6 separate regions of the Homo sapiens genome follow, and all the other regions are reported to be linked to region 2. Evidence: microRNA targets listed by miRTarBase, many of them from high-throughput screens and not tested one by one. Region 2 holds a microRNA gene; each other region holds the end of a gene's coding sequence.

What was found. The annotated mature microRNA hsa-miR-298 reads AGCAGAAGCAGGGAGGUUCUCCCA and lies in region 2 at 2,882-2,905, opposite strand. An mRNA with a match to its seed (bases 2 to 7 or 8) in the 3' UTR can be bound and repressed. Matches are read on the target gene's strand: a 7mer-m8 pairs with bases 2 to 8, a 7mer-A1 pairs with bases 2 to 7 and ends in A, and an 8mer does both.
Region 1: the mRNA of COXFA4L3 is a reported target of hsa-miR-298. Seed matches in the 3' UTR shown: 7mer-A1 at 3,718-3,724 and 7mer-m8 at 3,677-3,683.
Region 3: the mRNA of TMEM178B is a reported target of hsa-miR-298. Seed matches in the 3' UTR shown: 7mer-A1 at 1,819-1,825 and 8mer at 3,048-3,055.
Region 4: the mRNA of OR51E2 is a reported target of hsa-miR-298. Seed matches in the 3' UTR shown: 7mer-m8 at 1,181-1,187.
Region 5: the mRNA of HIVEP2 is a reported target of hsa-miR-298. Seed matches in the 3' UTR shown: 7mer-A1 at 2,718-2,724.
Region 6: miRTarBase lists GABRB3 as a target of hsa-miR-298. Seed matches in the 3' UTR shown: 7mer-A1 at 1,035-1,041 and 7mer-A1 at 1,694-1,700.

What each region holds. Positions count from the first base shown.
Region 1 is chr15:45,432,794-45,436,793 of GRCh38, reverse strand. COXFA4L3 (cytochrome c oxidase associated subunit FA4L3) reads right to left here. Exons shown (of 5, transcript NM_197955.3): 5 at 3,454-3,846. The coding sequence ends at 3,778. MIR147B (microRNA 147b) reads right to left here and starts at 3,744; the gene lies at 3,665-3,744. LOC107987223 (a long non-coding RNA gene) reads left to right here. Exons shown (of 2, transcript XR_001751510.2): 2 at 2,644-3,325.
Region 2 is chr20:58,815,399-58,819,506 of GRCh38, forward strand. It overlaps MIR298 (microRNA 298), which reads right to left and starts at 2,915; the gene lies at 2,828-2,915. MIR296 (microRNA 296) reads right to left here and starts at 2,296; the gene lies at 2,217-2,296. It also overlaps GNAS-AS1.
Region 3 is chr7:141,469,926-141,474,033 of GRCh38, forward strand. TMEM178B (transmembrane protein 178B) reads left to right here. Exons shown (of 4, transcript NM_001195278.2): 4 at 611-4,108. The coding sequence ends at 861. Among named protein-coding and RNA genes, the nearest start is that of AGK-DT, 79 kb to the right of the region's middle.
Region 4 is chr11:4,678,335-4,682,442 of GRCh38, reverse strand. OR51E2 (olfactory receptor family 51 subfamily E member 2) reads left to right here. Exons shown (of 2, transcript NM_030774.4): 2 at 1-2,272. The coding sequence ends at 694. Among named protein-coding and RNA genes, the nearest start is that of OR51C1, 17 kb to the left of the region's middle.
Region 5 is chr6:142,749,762-142,753,869 of GRCh38, forward strand. HIVEP2 (HIVEP zinc finger 2) reads right to left here. Exons shown (of 10, transcript NM_006734.4): 10 at 1,708-4,108. The coding sequence ends at 3,346. Among named protein-coding and RNA genes, the nearest start is that of HIVEP2, 190 kb to the right of the region's middle.
Region 6 is chr15:26,544,135-26,548,233 of GRCh38, reverse strand. It overlaps GABRB3 (gamma-aminobutyric acid type A receptor subunit beta3), which reads left to right. Exons shown (of 9, transcript NM_000814.6): 9 at 100-4,099. The coding sequence ends at 441. Among named protein-coding and RNA genes, the nearest start is that of LINC02248, 150 kb to the right of the region's middle. RefSeq lists an enhancer at 767-1,966.

The DNA of each region.
Region 1 (4,000 bases), not on the chromosome of region 2:
AAGCTGCTTTGGAGTCATTTTCATGACCACAAGTCAGTCAAGTACTCAGTACAACTTAGACAAATGCAACAAGTAAACCTTGGAGTAGATGATTCTGGATTTTAAAATACAGATATAAAGGATATTTTTGAGACAATTAGAGGAAAAAAAGGTGATATTTATGATATCACTATCATATTTATGATAGGTGATATTATTGAATGAATGTTAACTTTCTTAGGGATGATAATGGTATTCTAGTCAGCTACAATGTCTTTTATCTTAGGCAGTGAGTACATGCTTAAATTTTTAGGGAAAAAAGCCTCATGTCTGTAACTTGTTCTCAACACTTTTTTTTTTTTTTTTTTTTGAGACAGGGTCTCACTTGGGTTGCCCAGGCTGGAGTGCAGTGGTGTGAGATCAAGGCTGTCTGCAGCCTTGACCTCCCAGGGTCAGGTGATCCTCCCACATCAGCCTCCCAAGTAGCTGGGACCACAGGTGTGTGCCACCACACCTGGCTAATTTTTGCATTTTTAGTGGAGATGTTTCGCCATGTTGTCCACACTGGTCTCAAACTCCTGGGCTCAAGCCATCTGCCCGCCTCAGCCTCCCAAAGTGTTGGGATTACAGGCATGAGCCACTGTGCCTGGCCTCAACGAGTTAATTTTTGAAAAGCATACATACACAGGGAGATACAGCAAATGTGGCACAATGTTAATTGATAAGAAGTGTGAGTAACTTTCAACTTCTCTGCATATTTGAAAAATTTCAAAATAAAATGTTTGAAGGAAATGCTAAGAACACAACAACAAAACCCAAATCTTTTGAAATTTAAGCATCAACATTGCTTTTGGCCTCTCTCCCTCCTAAACCTGCAGAAAAGTACCTCCCATTGCCATGTTCACACCACCACATTTCAATCAGGTTTGTGTTTTAAAGTTGAAAGCCACAGTCATCCCTTGAAAAACACTCTATACTTTGCTCTCTTAGTTGACCAACCGTTAATTTTTATTTGTGCAAATGACATTACATTAGACTTTAGAAGCTTAAGCAAATAAAAATGTGCTTCCCAATTGCTACGTGTAATTCCTTGAGATCAACTATCAGAGACTTTAATCTGAGACGACTTGAGGTGATAAGGAAGCAACAGAAGTTGGCAGCAGTCTTGCTTTAATCCTCTCAGAGTTGCCAAGTTCCTGGCAAAACCTAGTTATTTGTTATTGCTGTGAAGGTAACGCTGGAGCCCAAAAAATGATACCCCAAATGAAGGCCGCAGAAGCAAAGTTTCTCTGCCCTCCTGTCTGTTGACCCTGATTCTTCCCCAGGTGAGCCATAGAAACTAGAATTCCTCTTCTCCAAGACCGGCCATAGAAGCCAGAATCCCGTTTCCTGAAAGCCAGCCATAAAACCTAAATATATTGCTCTTAAATTTCCCCCACCTTTCTATGTAACAGCTGGCCATAAAGAAATTAAGACACTCATTCCAGAGGGATCCCACCCCCACACCCAGCAGAAGGAAATGCTGCAGACAGGCCTTGGTGAGCTTCCCCATGTAGTCTATTCTGATAGCATTAGGACCATATCCTTTTTGTCCATATTTCTACATGTCCAATCATATTTCTACATCGACTTTTCATTGAACATAAGCATAAAAATGAACAGTTTTCCCTATATCTTTGGGTCTTCATTCTGAAGGCTACCATGTCAAGTAAACTATAAGTGTGTTATGCTTTTTCTAGTTAACCTGTCTTTTGTTATAGGGGTGTTAGCCATGATCCAATGGGGAGGGAAGGGATCACTCCTTTCCTCAAGTGATCAGGCAGTTGGATCACTTGAGGTCAGGAGTTCAAGACCAGCCTGGCCAACATGGCAAAAACCCTGCCTCTACTAAAAATACAAAAATTATCCAGGTGTGGTGGTGGTGCATGCCTGTAATCCCAGCTACTCAGGAGGCTGAGGCACGAGAATTGCTTGAGCCCAGGAGGCAAAGTTTATGAGATGGTGCCACTGCACTCCAGCCTGTCTAGTCTGGGTGACACAGCAAGACCCTGTCTCAAAAAAAAAAAAAAAAAAAAAAAAGTTAACGAACTTAGGTACCTACTTAGGAGAACCAAAAATATATGGCCACACAAAAATTTGTACATGGCTGTTCATAGCAGCATTATTCATAATAGCCAAAAAGTAGAAACAACCCAAATGTTCATCAACTTACCAATGAACAAAAATGGCATATCCTTACACTGGAAGAGTACTGTCAGAAAAAGTAATGAAATACTGATAATATAAACATGGTACAACATAGATGACTCTTAAAAACACTATACCAAGTTAAAGGAGCCAAACCCAAAGGTCACATATTGCCTGATTCCATTTACATGAGATGTCCAGAATGGGCAAATCCATAGAGACAGTTTATTAGTATTTCCCTGGGGCTGGGAGCAGAGGGGTTGGGACTAGGGAAATGACTGCTAATGGTACAGAGTTCTTTCTGGGGTAAGGAAGATGTTCTGAAAGTAGATGGAGATGGTTGCACAACTTTGTGAATACGCTAAAAACCACTGAATTGTTCAATTTAAATGGGTGAATACTATGACATGTGAATTATATCTCCATTTTTTTAAAAAAAGTTAATGAAAAGCAACTTTCTTCTTATTTCATTTTTAGGGACAGGCAGGGGAGCCCAGCGGCATGCTGGATATGAATGTATCTTCAGCCTTCAAGTTACCATTGGCCAGAGGGAAGAGTGGCCCCAAACTCTGAAGAGCGCTGGCAAGGCTCCCCATCTTCCTCTCCCTAGCCTCCACAGGAACATCACAGTATGGCTTGGCATTTTTTTTTTTTTTTTGAGACGGAGTCTCACTCTGTCACCCAGGCTGGAGTGCAGTGGTGTGATCTCAGCTCACTGCAAGCTCTGCCTCCCGGGTTCATGCCATTCTCCTGCCTCAGCCTCCCGAGTAACTGGGACTACAGGCGCCCGCCACCACGCCCAGCTAATTTTTTGTATTTTTAGTAGAGACGGGGTTTCACTGTGTTAGCCAGGATGGTCTCAATCTCCTGACCTTGTGATCTGCCCGCCTCAGCCTCCCAAAGTGCTGGGATGACAGGCGTGAGCCACGCGCCCAGCCTGGCTTGGCATCTTTAGGGCAGATCTCAGTATGCCTTGCATTCCAATTCATCTCCAGAATCCTACACTTCCTCCAAGGTCAGTCCTCATGCGAGTCTCCAACCTCATCCCCACTTCATTTTCCTCATTGTACTTACCATCTTTTATTCGTATCCCACCAAATTTTGGCTTTGTTAGCTATACTGCAAATAGTAGATGCTCAATAAACTACTAGTGAATGAATGAACTTGGAAAAAAAAGCTTACACAGAAATCTGTACTGGATGTTATTTAAAAGATGAAATTTCATGGTTCAAATGTATTTTTCTCCCATAAAAATATTTTCTCTTCCATTTAAATATATACCTAATCTTTGAGAAATCTTGCACAAATGGCATTTTATTAAAGAAAATCTAATTTACAAAGCTTTGTAAATTTTAAGAAAAACATTCATAGATCATAAACAAAAATTTCAATATGCAATATTCAAATTTACAAGAAAATAAGCACAAACTTTTAGACAGTGCAGTTATTGCTGCACTCCTTTAATTCCTTATCCAGAGCCCAAAAAATGTAGACAAACCCTAAAAATGTAGCAGAAGCATTTCCGCACACTGGTGTCCAGAATCTAGTTTGTGCAGAAATGTTTCCACTAGATTTATAGAGTACTCTTCAGAAGAAAGAGGCGAGGGCTCGTCATTTGGTCACCCTTTGGACATTTTGCAACTCTTCAATGGGTTTCCATTGTTGGTTGATTGTTATAAGCTGAAGAGAAAAAAGGAAAAAAAAAAAACCTTTTGTTAAAAATTTGACTTTCATTTGCATGTCCCTCTTTCGGATTTGTCCACACTCCCCTTTAGAAAAAGCATCACCATTGTGTTTGTACCTACCTCTTTCCATATCTAAAACATGCACAAAA
Region 2 (4,108 bases):
CACGTTTACAGAGAGCAACCAGCCAGGTGGCAAATGCATCTATCTTTTTTTGGCGTTGGTGGTGGTGGCTCCTAGCATCTAGCTCGGGGAGCTGCTGAACACTCTATAATCCCCAGGACGGCCCCCACCAGGGATGGAAGCAGCCCTGAAGGTCAGCAGTGCTAGGGTGAAGGCCTGGGGTGCACAGATGCCGCAGGAGGGAAGCCTGGGAGAGCCGCTGCTGCTCCCCTGCCCCGCTTCATTTCCCAGCATGCCGCTTTTCCACACACGACACAGCCCACCCACTTCCTGTTGGTGGTCTGTCTCTCCCCTCCAGAAGCAAGCTCCATGCAGAAAGGGCTCTTCCCTCTTCTGTGACTGCCGTGTTCCACCCACATGGCTGGGCCCTCGGGAGGGCTCGGTGTCTAATGATCCCATGGGGAAAGGGGAGCTGGAATGGGGCAGAAGCCACCAGAAGGAAGGTCAGCCTTGGAAAGGAATCACAGTGGGTTTTCCCGAGACAGAGGGGCGAGTGGCAGGTGGGGTGACAGAAGGGAGGCCAACCCTGCAGCAGGGCTGGGGGCAGTGAGGGCTGCAGGGCCTGGGGGCAGGGCTCCCATGAACTGTGCTACGGCACAGCCCAGGCATGGGGACACCCAAAAGAGAGGGCTGGGGTGCCAGCCTTAGCGGGAACAAGCAGGGAGCCCCCCACACCCCCACCTCAAGCTATGTCTCAAGGCCTGAGCCCCTGGGGCGTGCGCTTGCGTGTGAGTGAAGGCCTCTCTGCTCTCTTCCTGGCCTTCCCCAGCGCCCCTGGCCTCTTGCCCCATTCACACAAGGCCTTTTCCGCCTGGTACCTCAGCTGTGGGGCCTGGCTGGTGTAACTCATGGGGCCCCAGTGGGGGGCAGAGGGGCCACTGGTTTCCTGGCCTGCTGTCTCCACCAGGGTCTGGATCCAGGCACTTCTGCTGACAGCGCCCAGCGCGGGGCCACCATGTGCCCAGCGGCCTCCTGCAGAGAGGCCCCTGGGGAAGCTCCCCACTGGCCCCCTTTCCCCTGCCTAAGGGGAGGCCACAGCCACGGGAAGGGCTCAAGAATGGACTTCAGGGGTCCCTGAGACCCCAGAACTTTCAACTCTGAGTGACGTTCTTGCACTGGGAAGGGCCACTGTTCCTGCAGGTCCGGACTCTATTTTGGAGACTCCGCCAGCTCTAGCAGGAGGGAGGCTCACCCTTGCTTCTGCCCTCAGGACAGATGTGGGGACACTTTGCACCCCAAGTCCTCCTAGCCATGCCCGGCACCTCCCACCAAGTCTTGTCCACACAGGGAGCGTCAGGCCACCCTGCCTGTCACACCCCAGTTGCCTTCCTGTCTTTTCATCTTTTTGCTCTGTCCATCCACTCATCCATTGGTCCGTCCAGCAATAACCTGAGACCTGCTCCGTCCTAAGTGTATGAGAGAGTTCTGCCCTTTGGGGTTTAGTCTGGTGGGGGAGACAGGTGTTAAGACAGTGAGCCCGCAACTCCCCGCTGCGCTAATGCCATGAAGGCAGGGCCAGCCGCAGCAAGAGGAATCACAGTGGGGGCAACTGGTTCCACGCAGGAGTTGAGGGTGCCATGTTTCCAGCATGACCCCCAAGCAGCCACCATGAGTCAGAAGCAACCCAAGACCGTCAGACACTGCGCACTTGCTTCGAGGACTCTAGCAAGCAGAGCTGGGCTCTATGAAGAGTAAATACAAGAGCAAACATCCACCACTCTTTCTACACAAGTTTATTAGGCACCTGCTGGGTATCACGTGTGGAGACAAGCTGGACAACGTAACAATCCGCAAGGCAGCTACGGCCTTGCCCTGGAGCTCCCAGTCTAGCAGGGGTGGAAAACAGGTAAGCCCCCCAGCGGAAGCCCCAGACCTGGCATGCTGTGAGGTCGGGGAAGGAGCGGGGGCTTTCCCGAGGAGGCGTCAGTGAGGGTGGAGAGAGCCTCCGGAAGGGGAGCGGGCACCGGCGAGGATGGCACCGCATCCTGCAGGTGCTCGTGGCTGAGGGTGGGAGGTAGGTAAAACTCCCGGCAGTGGGGACCCACGGGAGACTGTGGCAGAGGCGCGGCACGGCGAGTTCACCATTCCCCAGTGCCCGGCCGCCCCAGGGGACTCAGCAGCTGACATGACAGGGGCCCCTCTTGTATCGACTGTCCTGTCTCCACTCCTGGCACACAGCTGCGGGTGCAGCGCTCTTCAGAGCCCTTCAGGAGAGCCTCCACCCAACCCTCTGAATTAGGCACAACAGGATTGAGGGGGGGCCCTCTGGAAGGGTCCTTTCTCCTCACCTCCCACATGAGGCTGGGCCTGATTTCACAATTTCACTCAGGATCTTCCCTCCTCAATCCTCCCAGCCCTGTCCCATCTCAGTGGCCTGTGGTGGACCCCAGATCCACAGACACAGGCCCTCTCCGCACAAGGGCTCACGTGGTCCCCAGCCAAGGCCCCTACAGCACTTTCTACGGAGCCCTCTTCCCAAACATGCACATCCAGCTTGCCTCTCAGCCACCCCGCCTCCATCTCAGCTCCAAGGAGGCCTTGGCAGCAGGCTCGGGGCGCCATGGAACGGTTCACTGCGTCTCTGCCCTGGCCTCACGTGCTGCCGGCTGGCCTTGCCATTCATCTTCTGAAGGCTATTCTCTGATGGCTCTGCTGGCCACCTTGATCTGAGTGGCAGGTCTGTGCTAACAGTGTTTTGTGTGGGGCCCTGGGAGAAGAGTCCATGAACCACTGCCTAACTCAAGTGCTGCCACGGTGAAGCACCCCTGCCTAGTTCTGAACAGACGCAGCACATCAAAGGGGAGCCGGCAGCTCACTCCTGAGCAAAGCAGCAGGCTAGTTCCTCACAGTCAAGGAAAACCACTGGGAGAACCTCCCTGCTTCTGCTGAAGACCTGAGCTGCTTCTCCCGGGTCCCCCAGTGCTGACAGGCCTCTAGCATCAGGTCCATGTGGCTGATTCTGGAGATCTTTAGGAGGATGGGACTGGCTGTTGAGAACTGTCAGTATGAGTCTGTCTGGCTACTCTGCCTGGGAACATTCACTGAGACATAAAGAAGATATTAAATAGCTGGAAAATTAGGAACCCAGCTAGGGCTGGAGGGGAGGTCTTAGAGGATCATTCTGTAAGTGCTGCCGGGGAAGGAACAACGGTGAGGGCTCAGGCTGGCTCTCTCTAGGGTCCTCCACAGGAGGAAGAAGACCACAAATCTAACCAGCCTAGCAGCCCCAGATACACAGAGCACATGTGGACAAAGCTGTGGCTGCCTGCATTCCATGGGATCATCTTGTATGCAGCAGTAAGAAGGGTCTGTTCTATGACTGCTCTGCTGCCTTTTTTTTTTTTTTAACAGCAGCTGGTTTGGAGTCTCCCACGTATTGCCTGAGGTGGTTTGGTGGTAACCAGCTAACAAAAATCCTTTCATTTTAGGTGCCTGTGGGTGGTGTGGTCGCCACCAAGAATGAGTCAAGCCATTTCTAAAGAATCCACAGTAGGCTCTGTCTGACAGGGTGCATCTGGGAGGGCCTGCCGGGCCTTTATTCAACACTAGATACGCCCCATCTCCAATTCTAATGGACATGTGCAGAAAATGTGATACAGAAACCTGCAGAGCAGCCAGTTCCCAGCGGACGTCAGAGATCAGCTCTTACCTCAAGGATCTTGCTCACCAAACTCTCTTTGCTTATCAAACCTTTCTTTCAGAGGGCAAAGGTTAACTCCCATCTAGAAGAGGTTGAAGTACTATGGTTTTCAAACCAGGAACGTGGCACTAATGAGGCGGAGCTCTGGAGAGGCACAGCTGCAGAAGGTTCCAGGGACCCTTGGAAGCAGACAGGGACCCTTGGGAGCAGACAGGTTTGGAATAAAAACAAAGAGAAAAACAGGGCAAAGGATTAACAACAGAAATGAAACCAGGCGCACACACACTCACCTGCGGCATGATCGCCTGCGGTCACACTCCAACTTGATATCTTGCTTCCAACGGCCAGAACGGCCATCAGTGGAACTTACTTTCACGGGCAATCTTTAGGCTGTTGTTTATTGTTGATTTAAGAGAGAAGCAGTTATGGTTTTGAAAACATGGCCCTTTT
Region 3 (4,108 bases), not on the chromosome of region 2:
CCGTCTTTTGACTCTGCCTCCCACTTTGTAAAGGATCTCATAGCGTTAGCACTCCAGAGAGAACACTTTGGGAAATGTCTTATAGGAAAAAGGAAAATATTTCCAGGTTTTGGAAGAATTGTTGGTGAACAGATTAAAGGAAAACCTAATACTGTATGAGTAAGTTGTTATGTATAAGAAAGAGAAAAGATTGTTTTTCTCTTTAAAGAAGTAGCAAACAGTAGGTGTTTTCCATGTCTCCAAAGAAATACAATGAATTTAAAATGCTTTAGGAAAATGAACTGAATGCTCTTCTGCTCACTCTACCCCACACAAAATGCTCATGAGATATCTATTTAGCATCTTCCCAAAGGAGAGACTTCCCGAGTGTGTCCAAGACTGGGCCATTATTGGAGAGTGATGAAGTGATGATCCTTTAATACTATTCTCTGCTCCATGAATATTTCCAGATACTGACCTTGGTGATAACCTGCTCTTACCTAGACTTCCCATTTTTCCTACTCAAGAAAATTGAAAATGTAATAATATTAACTTTTCTCTTTCTCTCTCCCGCTCCTCTCCCCTTTCCTTCTCCATTTCCCCATCCTGTGTCTTTTCCCTTGTCCTCCAGGAACCTTCTGCATCATTTCACTGTGCACCTGTGTGGCCGGGATCAACTTTGAGCTGTCACGCTACCCACGCTACCTGTACGGACTCCCTGATGACATCAGCCATGGCTATGGCTGGTCCATGTTCTGTGCATGGGGGGGCCTGGGCCTCACACTCATCTCGGGATTCTTCTGTACCTTAGCCCCTTCTGTTCAACCTGTCCCGAGGACCAACTACCCTAAATCCAGACCCGAGAATGGGACAGTGTGCTAAAAAACAAACCCATACATACATATATATATATAAATATATATATATAATATACATATATAAAACAAAACAAAACTAAATCAAGACGATGCCAGTGCCAAGGTAGAGTTGAGTTGGCTCAGGCACCTGCATCTCGCCGGACTTTGTGTTGCCTCATCTCTGAGATGGGGAAAGTTTTTCCATCCTGTGGCTCTTCCATCAGTTCTTGACTTTTGGCTTCATGGTCTCTTGAAGACAGAGCAAACACCACCACTTGCGACCGCGTCTTGATCCCCATCACTGGCGAGGATGGGGTGGTGAAGGGACAGTGGAAGGGGTCTGAGGCAGCACAGATGTAGAGAAGGAAGTGCCACCCACTGGGTCAACGGGAGAGGACGCCACCCCTAACCAGTCATATCACAGGGTAACAAAGCCCTCAGTTCCTAGAATGTAACCAAATTATTGAGGCCATTTTCAGAATCACTTCTTCTCCTGCTCTTCCTGTTCGGACTTCCTTCCCAGCCCACCAGCAACACACAAGGAGTGGAAGAGAAAACAAACTGAGAAGGACGTTTTCTCTTTGCTGCCAAACTTTTGGACCATGTTTCATAGGTGGGAAGGGAAGAGAACATGCTGAGAGGCAAGATCTGCATCAATGAAAGGACGCTTCGGTGGATGCTCAGACAACCCAGTCTTACCTTCCAGCTGCCTTACACCCAGTGAAACAAGAGGCCACCCTGTCCCCAGCCGCACCTGCACTCCCTGGGCAGACTGGAGCCTTGGAGTCATGCTGTGATGTGTGTGTGTGGGTGTGCGTGCATGTGTACTTTGGGCGGTTTCCTTTTTTTCTTTTCTACCTTTTAAATGGAAATACTGCATTATGACTGTTGTCTCTCTTATCACTGTAGTGGTTTCATGGCCCCAGATAGAGGCCCAGAGACCTAGAAATTGTCATGAGGGACAGGCCTATAAGGGTGCCAATTCTGCAGCTACAGATCCCTGGAGTGGTGTGTGTGTGCGTGTGTGTGTGTGTGTGTGTGTGTGTGTGTGTGTGTGGTGGATGTTTCTTGAGCGTGGGGTTTTATTGTTTGTGTTGTGTTTTTTTAAATTGTTTCTGGTATAGCTGAAATTTCCAGAGGGCAGAACCAAGAACAAAGCCACTGGGCCAGAGGACCCCCGTGGTTCTCCACATTACAGCTCTGGGACTCTGCACGATTTAGTCCTCTAATTTTGGAAGTTCAAGACACAGCTGGGCACATAAGCCATGAGAGAAGAGGGGGAACACACAGTTCAGGAGAGAGAAGAAATGTTGCTCTGGTTGCTGTTGTACAAGAACATAAACCAACAAGACCTTCACTCCCCATTATAGAAGCTGTCCTTTGTCACTGGACATCTCCCCTTTCCCTAGGGGTGACCTCTGTACAAACGAAAGGAAGTGGGTCACATGCAGAGAGAGCACCTCCATTTCCCATGGGCTCAAGTTTGTATGATATTGTGTAAATTAATGCAGAACTCTTGACTCTTTCCATCCTCTTCCTTTCCCTCTTGATATTCAAGGCCATGAATCCCAAAATAACAGTCTTAGTGGCTAGCACCCAAACAGAGGTGGAATAAATCCACCCCAGTGTCTCGGGCTCATTTGAGCAAATTAGCACTGCAGGTGCTGGCAAGCAAAGTCAGCCAGAGAGTTGTGAACGCTGTAGGGGTGGGAGTCTGCTGGAGTGGGCTGGAGCCGCTCACAGTCATCTCAGTGAGCCTGCTGGTGCCCAGCAGCCCTGGGGAGGCCAGGTGAGAATCCCTGAGCTGGTGTAGCCATGGTCAACTGTGTAGCAGAGAATCCCCTTGTTTCATAAACAAATATGCTTTGGGAGCTTTGCCAGGCACTCAGCAGCCTTTCTTCCACTGCTGTGTAATCTGTTTCATTTACACGTCTTCCAACCCATCTTCCTACCACTCTCCTCCTTTTCTCACCTACTAACCACTTACCTTCTCTCTCTTCTATCTTCCACCCTCATCTGCTCCTTTGAACTGCGTGTATGTAATTCATATCTGGATATGATATGACATCTGATGTGCATGAATGGGGTTGAATGTGGATCTCTCTGTATGTGTATCTCTCTGGTGCATTTTGTGTACGTTTGTGTCAGTACACACCTGCACACAGGTGTGGGTGCCCTACTCAAGACTTCCTTACCGGGGACTCTGGTCAGCTTCTGCAAAAGGTCTCATGTGTGAGTTCCCTGTGTGTGGGTGTGCTGGGCGATAGGGTAAGGTGTGCAACGGGAAAAGTTGTTAGCTTCCAGTTGGGGTTCTAAGGATTATTTTTAAAACAAAGGATTTATTCTATGAGAAGGGAAATAATTTTCAGGAAAACCCAGTTTTTCAATTGGGCATTTTATTTCTAATTTTCTTTGAAAAGTTAGATTTCTCCCTTAAGGGGAAGGGCATACTTGGGCTTAAGGAAAAGTGAAGAAAAGTATCTCAGATTGAGAGGCCTTTTGTCTTCCTTCCAAGCGTCCTGAAGGGGCTCTGCCGAGGAAGGGACAGACAGGTTCACAAGCATCCATTTGGGGGAGAGGGCTTGTCTATGACCACACTGAAATTCCAGCTTTTTTCCAGTTGCAGGAGAGAGGGGAAAAATTCTAAATGGGGAAATTTGCTATGAACCATTTAAACTTTTTGTAAGTAATCATGTTTGAGGATGCTGGCTCACAGACCTATCATTATTTATATCCTCTTTTTAAAAAAAAATCCCATACTTTCAATGAATAGATTATCTGCTCTATCCAATTATTGTCTTTGTGACAGACATTTAGCAAAGCTTACTGCATCCCTTTGAAACCTTGAGAGTTCCTGAAATGTTAGAAAGCTCCCAGGAAAGACGTAAACAACCTGGGCTCAACTCACCAGCCCAGAGCAGGGGCTTTGAGTGACTTCTTTGATAGCAGGACCAGATAAATACGAACACACTTTGGGATCTGATCCTGCTGGGAAGCAAAAGACGCCCAGCCACATGACCAGGATAGAGGCCCCTTTCAGACGGCAAGTCCTGGCCAATGGGAGGACTTCTCAGGTGACCTTGATCCCTCTAGCATAAGGGCTTGACCACAGATTAAAACATGTGACTCCAACCAGTTACGGAAGCTTTCTGGCTGTGAGGTAGCTGAGGGAGATGAGGAGGAGGAAGAGAGGAGCCTTGACTTGTGAGGCTCTGTAGGTCAGACTCTGCTAACTCCAAATCAAAGTGGAACCCAACCTTATGAGGGCATTT
Region 4 (4,108 bases), not on the chromosome of region 2:
GATTAGCTTTGAGGCCTGTCTTACCCAGATGTTCTTTATTCATGCCCTCTCAGCCATTGAATCCACCATCCTGCTGGCCATGGCCTTTGACCGTTATGTGGCCATCTGCCACCCACTGCGCCATGCTGCAGTGCTCAACAATACAGTAACAGCCCAGATTGGCATCGTGGCTGTGGTCCGCGGATCCCTCTTTTTTTTCCCACTGCCTCTGCTGATCAAGCGGCTGGCCTTCTGCCACTCCAATGTCCTCTCGCACTCCTATTGTGTCCACCAGGATGTAATGAAGTTGGCCTATGCAGACACTTTGCCCAATGTGGTATATGGTCTTACTGCCATTCTGCTGGTCATGGGCGTGGACGTAATGTTCATCTCCTTGTCCTATTTTCTGATAATACGAACGGTTCTGCAACTGCCTTCCAAGTCAGAGCGGGCCAAGGCCTTTGGAACCTGTGTGTCACACATTGGTGTGGTACTCGCCTTCTATGTGCCACTTATTGGCCTCTCAGTGGTACACCGCTTTGGAAACAGCCTTCATCCCATTGTGCGTGTTGTCATGGGTGACATCTACCTGCTGCTGCCTCCTGTCATCAATCCCATCATCTATGGTGCCAAAACCAAACAGATCAGAACACGGGTGCTGGCTATGTTCAAGATCAGCTGTGACAAGGACTTGCAGGCTGTGGGAGGCAAGTGACCCTTAACACTACACTTCTCCTTATCTTTATTGGCTTGATAAACATAATTATTTCTAACACTAGCTTATTTCCAGTTGCCCATAAGCACATCAGTACTTTTCTCTGGCTGGAATAGTAAACTAAAGTATGGTACATCTACCTAAAGGACTATTATGTGGAATAATACATACTAATGAAGTATTACATGATTTAAAGACTACAATAAAACCAAACATGCTTATAACATTAAGAAAAACAATAAAGATACATGATTGAAACCAAGTTGAAAAATAGCATATGCCTTGGAGGAAATGTGCTCAAATTACTAATGATTTAGTGTTGTCCCTACTTTCTCTCTCTTTTTTCTTTCTTTTTTTTTTATTATGGTTAGCTGTCACATACAACTTTTTTTTTTTTTGAGATGGGGTCTCGCTCTGTCACCAGGCTGGAGTGCAGTGGCGCGATCTCGGCTCACTGCAACCTCCACATCCCATGTTGAAGTAATTCTTCTGCCTCAGCCTCCCGAGTAGCTGGGACTAGAGGAACGTGCCACCATGACTGGCTAATTTTCTGTATTTTTTAGTAGAGACAGAGTTTCACCATGTTGGCCAGGATGGTCTCGATCTCCTGACCTTGTGATCCACCCGCCTCAGCCTCCCAAAGTGTTGGGATTACAGGTGTGAACCACTGTGCCCGGCCTGTGTACAACTTTTTAAATAGGGAATATGATAGCTTCGCATGGTGGTGTGCACCTATAGCCCCCACTGCCTGGAAAGCTGAGGTGGGAGAATCGCTTGAGTCCAGGAGTTTGAGGTTACAGTGATCCACGATCGTACCACTACACTCCAGCCTGGGCAACAGAGCAAGACCCTGTCTCAAAGCATAAAATGGAATAACATATCAAATGAAACAGGGAAAATGAAGCTGACAATTTATGGAAGCCAGGGCTTGTCACAGTCTCTACTGTTATTATGCATTACCTGGGAATTTATATAAGCCCTTAATAATAATGCCAATGAACATCTCATGTGTGCTCACAATGTTCTGGCACTATTATAAGTGCTTCACAGGTTTTATGTGTTCTTCGTAACTTTATGGAGTAGGTACCATTTGTGTCTCTTTATTATAAGTGAGAGAAATGAAGTTTATATTATCAAGGGGACTAAAGTCACACGGCTTGTGGGCACTGTGCCAAGATTTAAAATTAAATTTGATGGTTGAATACAGTTACTTAATGACCATGTTATATTGCTTCCTGTGTAACATCTGCCATTTATTTCCTCAGCTGTACAAATCCTCTGTTTTCTCTCTGTTACACACTAACATCAATGGCTTTGTACTTGTGATGAGAGATAACCTTGCCCTAGTTGTGGGCAACACATGCAGAATAATCCTGTTTTACAGCTGCCTTTCGTGATCTTATTGCTTGCTTTTTTCCAGATTCAGGGAGAATGTTGTTGTCTATTTGTCTCTTACATCTCCTTGATCATGTCTTCATTTTTTAATGTGCTCTGTACCTGTCAAAAATTTTGAATGTACACCACATGCTATTGTCTGAACTTGAGTATAAGATAAAATAAAATTTTATTTTAAATTTTGCTGAGTGTTATGCCTATTGATTTTACATTTATAGAATCCTATAAATCAGAATTGGAGATGTGAGTGATTTCCTAGTCTTCTTTCTCACCAGTGCAGGAATCCTGACTGGAATGGTTCACACGTTAGTAAGGATGCTGAATGCATCTTATTTCAAGGTAGGGTATTCCCACTGTACTTTTGAGCAGATCCAGTGAGCAGCTGAGATCTGAATACAATCATTGGGCCTATATGTTCCCTCTGTAGCTTCACTAAACAAGTCTTGGGTGCAGGACTTGGGTAGATAAACCATGAGGGAGACTCTATACTGTAGGCTCTCTCTTAGGAGGAGGGAACCACAGATACTTGATGTGTACTGATGACAGATTCTGCTAGCATATAGATCTGTGAGCATTCAACTGTGCTTCATTGTTCAGAGGCAGTAAAGTGGCTTCCAAAGTCATGCAGTTAATCAATGTGCATAGGCCAGGGCTAAGGGGAGAAAACACAATGGAAGAAATGGGTGATTTCTCTAAAGAAATGAAAGTGTACCCATGCTCTGTAAAGTGGAGATTCAGGTGTTGGGCCCCACCCTCAAATAATGAGGTCAGGTGCCTCATTTTATGAGGTTAAACTCTGTTATGTCTCTCCCCACAATCTCAGTCCTCTTCTACCTTCCTGTCCGTTGCTTTACCGCAATTTGGATCCTCCAGCCTACTTCCATATGCCTAACAACATAGCCATATTGACAATTTAATGAATAGTGGATTTCTTTCTCTCTCTTCTGTGAATAGCTAATCCCTTACTGTCTCCCACTATGATAGGTTGTTTATATATTCTTACTATCTCCTCTCCCCTTTCCTCTGTCCTAAGATTTTTAACTTTTAAAAGTAGCCCAGGCTGGGCACGGTGGCTCACGCTTGTATTCCCAGCACTTTGGGAGACTGAGGAAGGTGTATCACCTGAGGCCAGTAGTTTAAGACCAGTCTGGCCAATATGGTAAAATCCCATCTCCACTAAAAATACAAAAATTAGCCAGGTATGATGGTGGGTACCTGTAATCCCAGCTACTCTGGAGGCTGAGGCAGAAGAATCACTTGAACCAGGGAGGCGGAGCTTGCAGTGAGTCCAGATCACCACCACTGCACTCCAGCCTGGGCGACAGAGTGACACTCCTTCTCAAAAAAAAAAAAAAAAAAAAAAGTAGGCCAAAGACTTCTGTGCCAATGTTCATAGCAGCATTATCCACAATAACCAAAAGGTGGAAATAACCCAAATGTCCATCAACAGATGAATGGATAAACAGAATGTGGTTTATATATACAGTGGAATATTATTCATTCTTAAAAATCTGGTACCTGCTACAACATGGATGAAACTTGAAAACATTATGCTAAATAAAATAAGCGAGATGATAAAAGGACAAATAATATATGATTCCACTCATATAAGGTATCTAGAATAGGCAAATTCATAAAGAAAGAAAGTAGAATACAGGTTACCAGGGGCTGGGGGAGGGGAGGATGGAGAGTTATTGTTTATGGGTGCAGAGGTTCAGTTTGGGATGATAAAAAAAGTTCTGGAAATAGATAGTGGTTATGGTTGTACAACAATATGAATCTGCTTAATGTTACTGAATTGTACACTTAATGTTTAAAATGTTAAATTTTATTTTATGTATGTTTATCACAATAAAAATTGCAAAAATAATGTAAAACTCTCATTATCAATTTTATCTTAAGAATATGTTGAAATGATTATATTTTAGATGTTAGGTTTAAAATATATTATTGTTTTTTTTTTTTCTTTTTTCAAAATGTGTTGCCAGGTGCTGTGGCTCACGCCTGTAATCCCAGCAC
Region 5 (4,108 bases), not on the chromosome of region 2:
ACTTTGATATGTGTTTCTAGCTTAACCATGTACTACCTTGCCACATACCTAGGGTGCCAGCTACATCTTGCTTTTTACACATTAATTGCTTTACACATCTCAGATCAGATCTAATATGCGTTTTCCCACTAATTTTTTATATTGCCCTCTCCTCTAGAATATAAACTCCATTAAGGCAAGGACTTTATCTGTTTTGTGCCATATTGGACACCTAGCACACACAAGAGTACTCCAATGTAGGTGATGAAAAGCTACGTTGAATGAATTAGTCAATTTATTGTTTCAAGGATCTGTTCTAAGGCTACCTCTGTGATGAAGCTTTTCTTCATTCTCAGCAGGATGATTGCTCTCTCCAGGATGATTTCTCTCTCCCTTTATGGTTATAAAACCAAATGTGCAACTATTTTAGCTCAAACATCATATTATCCACATTTACTTACATATATGTCTTTCCTATTTACTTGAGCTCCTTGGTGGCACGGATACTCTTTATTAATTCTAAATGCCCACCACCAGGCTGGGAGCATTAGGTTCACACCTGTAACCCCAGCACTTTGGGAGACTGAGGCAGGCAGATCACTTGAGGCCAGGTGTTTGAGACAAGCCTGGCCAACATGGTGAAACCCTGTCTCTACTAAAAATGCAAAAATTAGCCATGGTGGCATGCACGTGTAGACCCAGCTACTCAGGATGCTGAGATGGGAGAATCACTTGAACCTGGGAGGCGGAGGTTGCAGTGAGCTGAGATAGCACCACTGCACTCCAGCCTGGCCTGCAGTAAGACTCTCAAATAAATAAATAAATAAATAAATAAATAAATAAATAAAAATAAAAATAAATGCCCACTATCGTACCCAGTTCATAGTTGGCACTCAATAACTTTTATGAATGAATGAATGACTGAATAAATGAGTGATGAATTAGGTAGAGGAGGAAACAGAGTAATTTGATTTGGCCTGGGATCACCAACACACACACACACACACACACACACACACACACACGCACGCACACATCAATGAGGAATATGACACACAAATCACCCTACATAATCAAAAGATTCTTCTTGGTAAGAGACAGATATTAGAGTGTCTGTGTTGACCTTTAAATCACCTTTGTAAAACACAGTTTAAAAAGACAGTCTGGCTCATAAAAGCAAATAGGTACATTGTAAATCCACAAATTTGAGATTTTTATAGTGAAAATACTAATAGGTTTTGACTTTTAATGAGCTTCTGCTCTTATTATTAAAAAGATTCTACTCATTCTAATAAAAGAACTGTGATTTGTGGGTATCTTCTGATATATTTTAGTTGATTCTTAGCTTCAGCCACCTTAGCAAAAAGAAAGAAGAGGTTTCCCCAGTGGAATTTCAGATAAGTATGCATACTGCAAGAGAGGCAGAGGAAAAATGATAATTTGCTTTATTCATGAATCTGTTCAGATGCAACGTATGCTGCCCAGGCCCATGCTGAGGTTTGGATAAGTCTATTCCTAGGGCCCACACCTTGGTGACCACTATCTGTTCTAATCAGATAATCTATGGAAGCCAATGACTGTCTTCTCACTTGTTAAAAGCATTCACACTCAGGATGGGCAGAGCCTAGCAATTAAAAGCACAGATGGTATGTTGCTAGTATCAAAATTACTTTAGAAACAAAATTGGGAAATTAAAATGTAAAGCAACACATAAGAACTAGACACCTCAAGCATGTAATTGTATATTTATTTCTCTTTTTAAAGAACACTCCTTAATGTAATTCAATATACAAACTTGGTTTCACAGAATTATAATCCACTATATAGCACAAAGATAACCCAGATTGTATGTGTGCGTGCACACATGTGCGTGCCTGTGCACATGTTGCTGCACCCCTCCCTCTCTTTCACTCTTCTGGACCTACAAATGCTCTTCCCACCTTCAACACTAACCAAAAGCCATTGTGAGTATTACATACAACAGACATCCTCCCACGAGTTCTTTGCCCTTGAAAGATTCTTTTCCCCATTCCCCCTGAGATAGCCAGGAGTGTGACACTCTTCCCCTATGAAAAAGGGTAAGGTGACCTCCCCTAACACAGATGTTAACCCTGTTCCCATGTAAACCGGCTGACAGGAAGAGCTGGGGAGCAGGTCTCCATCTCCTTTTCCCCCTTCCACACCCAACCCTCAGAGTCCAAGTGCGACCCTCTGTGTAGCCTTAGTTCCAGTCACCATCCTGTGTAGCAAGAACTAAGGAGATTGCTAAGCCCAGGTCTTCTCCATGAGCAGCGCACAGCACTGCCTGCCAAGCCACCGGGCCGGCCGATAACCAAGCTCTACACAGTCCCATGTGCTTTGTCACCTTAATTTTTTAAAGACACCTAGCATAGGTCTGTGGCAACCTAGTGTCCAACTGAGTTACATAAAATTGTACCAGTGATGCACTTGTACATATTTACATGGGGTGGAATGTTTTCCCATATTTTTAGATGAGTATATAGATCAACATGTTCACATAAGACCAAATACTTTTAATATTATTTATAACTGATTTATAAAGCTTTGAAAAAACTCACAATAGCACATTGTTTACTTTAATGCTTTACGGTACTATCATTTTAAAATCACAATCAGCACTTAAGTTATAGTCAATCCAGCAAACAAGAGACAAAAAAATATACAAGAGTTAAGAACTGACTGATACATCCTTTATCTTTTTTTAACTAATGCATAAGTGCAGAATAAGATACTCTAGTTTAAATATCTTGTTTACAATGTACATTTTTGTTCTAGTTACGCAACAGTAAATCCCATGCTTCACATAGAAAAGCAATCCACAACATTAAGAAAAAATGTACAATTTATGAAACAAAGTAAATAAATATTAGTATTACAGAATCAGAGCTGTACATAAAAGCTGTTCAGTTTTAATCATATAAAAATATGTTTTAGTGCAACCTCACATATATATTGATGCTGTTTTGCTTTACATCATTTAGATCCAAGTGTCCAAAAAAGGAAAGAAATTACATTTATTACAAAGCAGATACACAAATTCTAAAATATGTACAAATTACTGCTAAAAAATGCTTATAAGAATATAAGCAAAGTAAAGAAAAGGCACAAACATCTGTACAATTTTAAAAGTACCAGACCCAATAGGTTAATTTCAAATTTTGTTTTGGTCAGGCTCATGATGACTTGTTAATTTACCTAATTCTTTTGATATAACAAAAGTATATATAATAGCAAACTACTGTAACTTAGGACAGGCATGCTATAAACTGGATTACCTCCATTTCTAGAAAAACAAAAACAAAAAAATGGGAAAATGTGGAAATGAAAGTCTCCATGCATCATAGATCAATGTAGCTGACTCTTTTCTGATGAAGGATCTTTGCTTTCCTCTGTGCTTGAAGATAATTCCTTGCTGCTGTGAAAGTCCAACTGCTTGTCATCCACACAACTCTTGCTGTAAAACGTGGAGTGAGCTAATGGAGTCTGTGATGTACCAAAATTGTCCTTTTCACCATCATGCAAGTCAGGGTGGGTGGCTGAGGTACAGGGCTGACCTGGCTCAGGTCTACTAAAGTGTCTAATGCTAACATGTGCACTTCCCAGGGGGTTCTGGTGGGGCTCCTGCACCCGCGCTGGCTGATCTGGCCCGAGCAGAGCTGCCTCTTCCGTGGCAATCCGGAGAGAGGCAATGGCTTTTGTACAAGTCTGTATATTTTCCTCCTGTTCCCGCTCTGTTGCGTTTAGGCTGTCTTCCGAAGTGCTCTGTTTCATCAACAGCCGAGGAGAGGAGGGAGTGCTAGGTGGACCAGATGACTGCAAAGCGTGAGGACCTCGCTTCTCATGCTGCTTAGAAAGCACATAGGGGTCCTTGGAGAAGGACTCCCCTGACGCGCCTTTCTTCTCCTCAAAGCCCTCCATTGGCAGGGGCAATGTGGGTGAAGGATGTAAACTGGAAAGGGCTGGCGGCATGGAGTGAACCATCTGGATCCCACCAACGGGCACCATGGGGATAGGGGCTCGCACTTGTTGCTGAGAGTGGAGTGGAAGATGACTGAAGACATAGTCATTAGGACCCTCAGGGAAAAGGCTGGAGCCTGGATGTTCATAA
Region 6 (4,099 bases), not on the chromosome of region 2:
ACATGCAACATGTGATGGCATGACATCATTCTGTCCGGGATCTGCATAGGGAAATTATGCTGCTGGCTGTCTAACCATGTGCATTTTCCGTCCAATTAGGTGGATGCTCATGGAAATATTCTGTTGACATCGCTGGAAGTTCACAATGAAATGAATGAGGTCTCAGGCGGCATTGGCGATACCAGGAATTCAGCAATATCCTTTGACAACTCAGGAATCCAGTACAGGAAACAGAGCATGCCTCGAGAAGGGCATGGGCGATTCCTGGGGGACAGAAGCCTCCCGCACAAGAAGACCCATCTACGGAGGAGGTCTTCACAGCTCAAAATTAAAATACCTGATCTAACCGATGTGAATGCCATAGACAGATGGTCCAGGATCGTGTTTCCATTCACTTTTTCTCTTTTCAACTTAGTTTACTGGCTGTACTATGTTAACTGAGTGACTGTACTTGATTTTTCAAAGACTTCATTTAACACTGAGTGAAATATTACTCTGCCTGTCAAGTTTTTATACCTGTACACACACAGACACACAAGCAGACACACACATATATACATACGCAATTGTATATATATGTGAACTTTCTCAGCATATATATAAAATACACGTGTATATGAGGATGTATGTGTATATGTTTATACACACAGGAGTCAGTGCCCATGTGTATGGAAGACAAATACACATACATATATACATTTTGCAGCTATGGACAATTTACCACAGGATGCATATTAAAGAAAGTCATAGTTTTTTTCTTTTTTAATTGAAAGGGACAAGTATCATCTAAATATTATGCCTTGAGAATGAGGGCGTGAAACACAATATCATCCCCAAATGTGTCTTGTATTATCATAAGTTAGATGTTTTAGTTTAAAAATCAGAAAGACATTCTTAGTTAATCTTTGAAAACTCATACAGTGGTATTGCTAGTTTAAAATGAGTCACTTACTTCATATCCTCTCGTTCAGTTTAGTAAGCAAAGGCTTCTTGGCTTCTCTGGTGATGGGGTTTGTTTTCATCGGGCATACGTTTTCTGCAATGGTTTAGTGGCTGGGGTGAGCCACTGGCAGTGTGCTTACCTGTTGTCTGAAACATAGATAGATCCCACGTTGATGTCTGAACGACCGTCTTTTGAAAACTCATCGGGAGTGAATGGCATCTCGTTGTAAGTACTCTAATATACAGTGTGTAGTTTGTTTCTGTTGTTCACTTGGAGTGGATCCAGCTTCACTGTCATGTGCGAACACAGTGACACGTTTGGCCAGTGACATTTCAATCACTGAAAATGTGCTCTACATCTCGTATGGATTTCTAGGCCTGATATCCAACAGAAAGCATAGACGTCTCAGGTTATTCGTTACTCTAAGGTAAAACCATCTAGGATGATTTTCCCCCTTGCAGTTATGTTATCATTCTTATAACATTGTATGTTAATAGAAAATATATTTGCATAATATGCATATATATGTATATTTACCAAGATTTTGTTTCTTACGCTTGCTATCATGGCAGCATGCGATGTCATATTTTCCTTTATGTGATGTAACTACTTTCTGTTATCTAGAAATTAAGATTGAAGCTAAAACACTTCTACTGTTCAATTTCAGAAACTAAGAATCATCCTCATGCCTTTATTTCTGTATCTGACATATTTCATAAGCACATCCAACTACTCCTAGACTGACTAGGATTCTGCAGGAACATGACCCGTACACACCACGCGTCACCCAACGACCCATGACCGTTCTCTGAGGCAAAGGAGGGCAACCTGACAGCAAACACAGTCACTGTTGGTTCCTTCTGATCCACAGCCTCATCAGTATTTGGACTTTTTAAAGCTCGTAGAAACAAGACAAGGTGCACCGGTTTCATAGACGCAACCTTAACTTACTATTTAGATGAGATCTTTCTAAAGAAAAAAAAAAGAGATGATATATTTTTTGTAAACAATATTTCTATCACAGGCATCCATAAACTGAAATGACTACAGTTGTGCAAACAGGTGTCACAGTGAAGTTGAGCATTTGGAGAAAAAAATAAAAAGCAAAATTTGCAGGAAGAACTGCTAAATTAATACTTTATCCCAAAATGCCACGTATGCCTCACCCTCTCTGTTCTATCCAAAACCAAGGACCAGAGTGCTCCAATGGTAGGCCCCAGTTGTCTCGATGTAGGTAGAGGCACCACCCTCCCCGAGGATGCGTGTGGTGTGGACTATCCCCATGAGCTGACCACTACTTGATTTTTCTTTGGTGGCCGTAACAACCTTTAATTTGTGGGCATCTGCAACAGTTCAAAACCCACCATCAGATAAAACATAATCCACAAAATCTCACGCTAGAGGCAATTACCTACTTTTAGACCCTTTTCCCTCTTTCATTCCTATCTTTTTCCTCCTAATCGCTGCTCTCTGGTTTTATTTTCATCTGGAGACTAGCCAGGGATTTCTTTGGCTTTGGCTTTTCTCTGACCATTTTTTCCATGGGTAACAATGGGGGATCCTAAAAGTTAAACAGATTGGGAAAAACCTTGTTAAGTGGCCTTATCATTATTATCATGTTAAAGAAAAAAAATACATTTGCAAAGACCTTATCCCTTTCAATACTTCAGGTATCTTTTTCTGTATCCAGTAATTAAAGGTGTGAGGTCCACATGCAGAAGAGGGACCCCAAAATGTAAATGGATGTGGACAAAAACAGTCAATGGTCTATTTAAGTGTATAATTTATACTATTCAGAACTGTGACATTAATTCTTTCTGGGAGAAAAGTGATTTAAAACTTTTTTGATGCATAGTTGAGGTACCCAAATATCAAAGGCAGAGACCCCATGGGGCTCCAAAGAGCTGCAGTCTCCTTCCCAAGGTTTTCTGGATATAAATTTGCATGGTATAGTCATAATAGCTTTTGAGCTTTTTATATGCATTTGGCACCAAGACTGGGATCCACAACTTTGTAGACACTGCGATGAAGTTAACATATTAGCTATACTATAAATAGTGTTTGTAACTACACACACACACACACACACACACACAAATACATACATATATTCTGTAAAAACAAAAAAAAACTTTTTAAGATCCTTGGGTATGTGTTTGCTTTACTCCATTTCAGAAGAAAATTACTTTTCTTCTAACAAAATTATTTTATAGCTTCTCCATTTTTAAAACTTGTGAGAGCATTGAGAAGAGAACTCTGACTGTGTTAACAGAAGAGAGTTGAATTGGAGTCTCTGTTGTGTTAAAATGACCTCTCGTTACTCCACAGTAGTTATTTGAGCCAGTGACTGAGTCGCGTTGAGGAATTCTGAACCCGGACCTCTGACGTTGTTGGGAGGTGGCTGTTACCCACACCCAGACCTCTTGAGTAAGGACAGAAACGTTATCATTGGGGATATAATGAGATTTCTTTCTTAACAATTGAAAGTAATAAAGAGTTAATTTTCTCAGTAGTCCTGTCTTTCCAAAATGCGCCACAGGGGCTCAAGATCTACAGAAGAATCTTGTTATGACAGTTTGTTATTACCCATATTCAGATATCCTTGAGATAATGGAAGAGCCCTGCTACATAACTCCCTACAGAGAAAGACTGATAGACTTGAGTAGTCCTTAAAACAAGTGTTATTCCTGTTCACCAACCCCGGGACTGTGGAGGGGTTTCACTGTCTATACCATGCGACATCCATTTCCCCTGAATCTCAAACGAACTAGAAAGTATGTCATGATAATATTTCCATTAGATTTGGAAGCTACCTGTACATCTGCAATATTGTGTTTTTAACGCCAGCACCCAGAACTTTGACATGTTCAGTCACTCCCTGAAAGGCACTTCTCTCTTGTCCAAACACAGCGTTGACATTTTTACTGAGGAGATCATCTCAAAGGTGATGCCAAACGAGTCTGGGGCTGGTTTTAAGGGGACAGGCACATTGCAGTTGTAGGTGTTCATTTTCAGCATCTAGTAGATAATCCATTGGTGTTTGTCCCACCATTGGTGTATTCTAACAAGAATGTGTCCAACTTTGAATCTCCTGGCTTGAAAGTATAAACCATCACTTAATTCTTATTTTAACTCTCCACCTGAAAACCAGTTCAT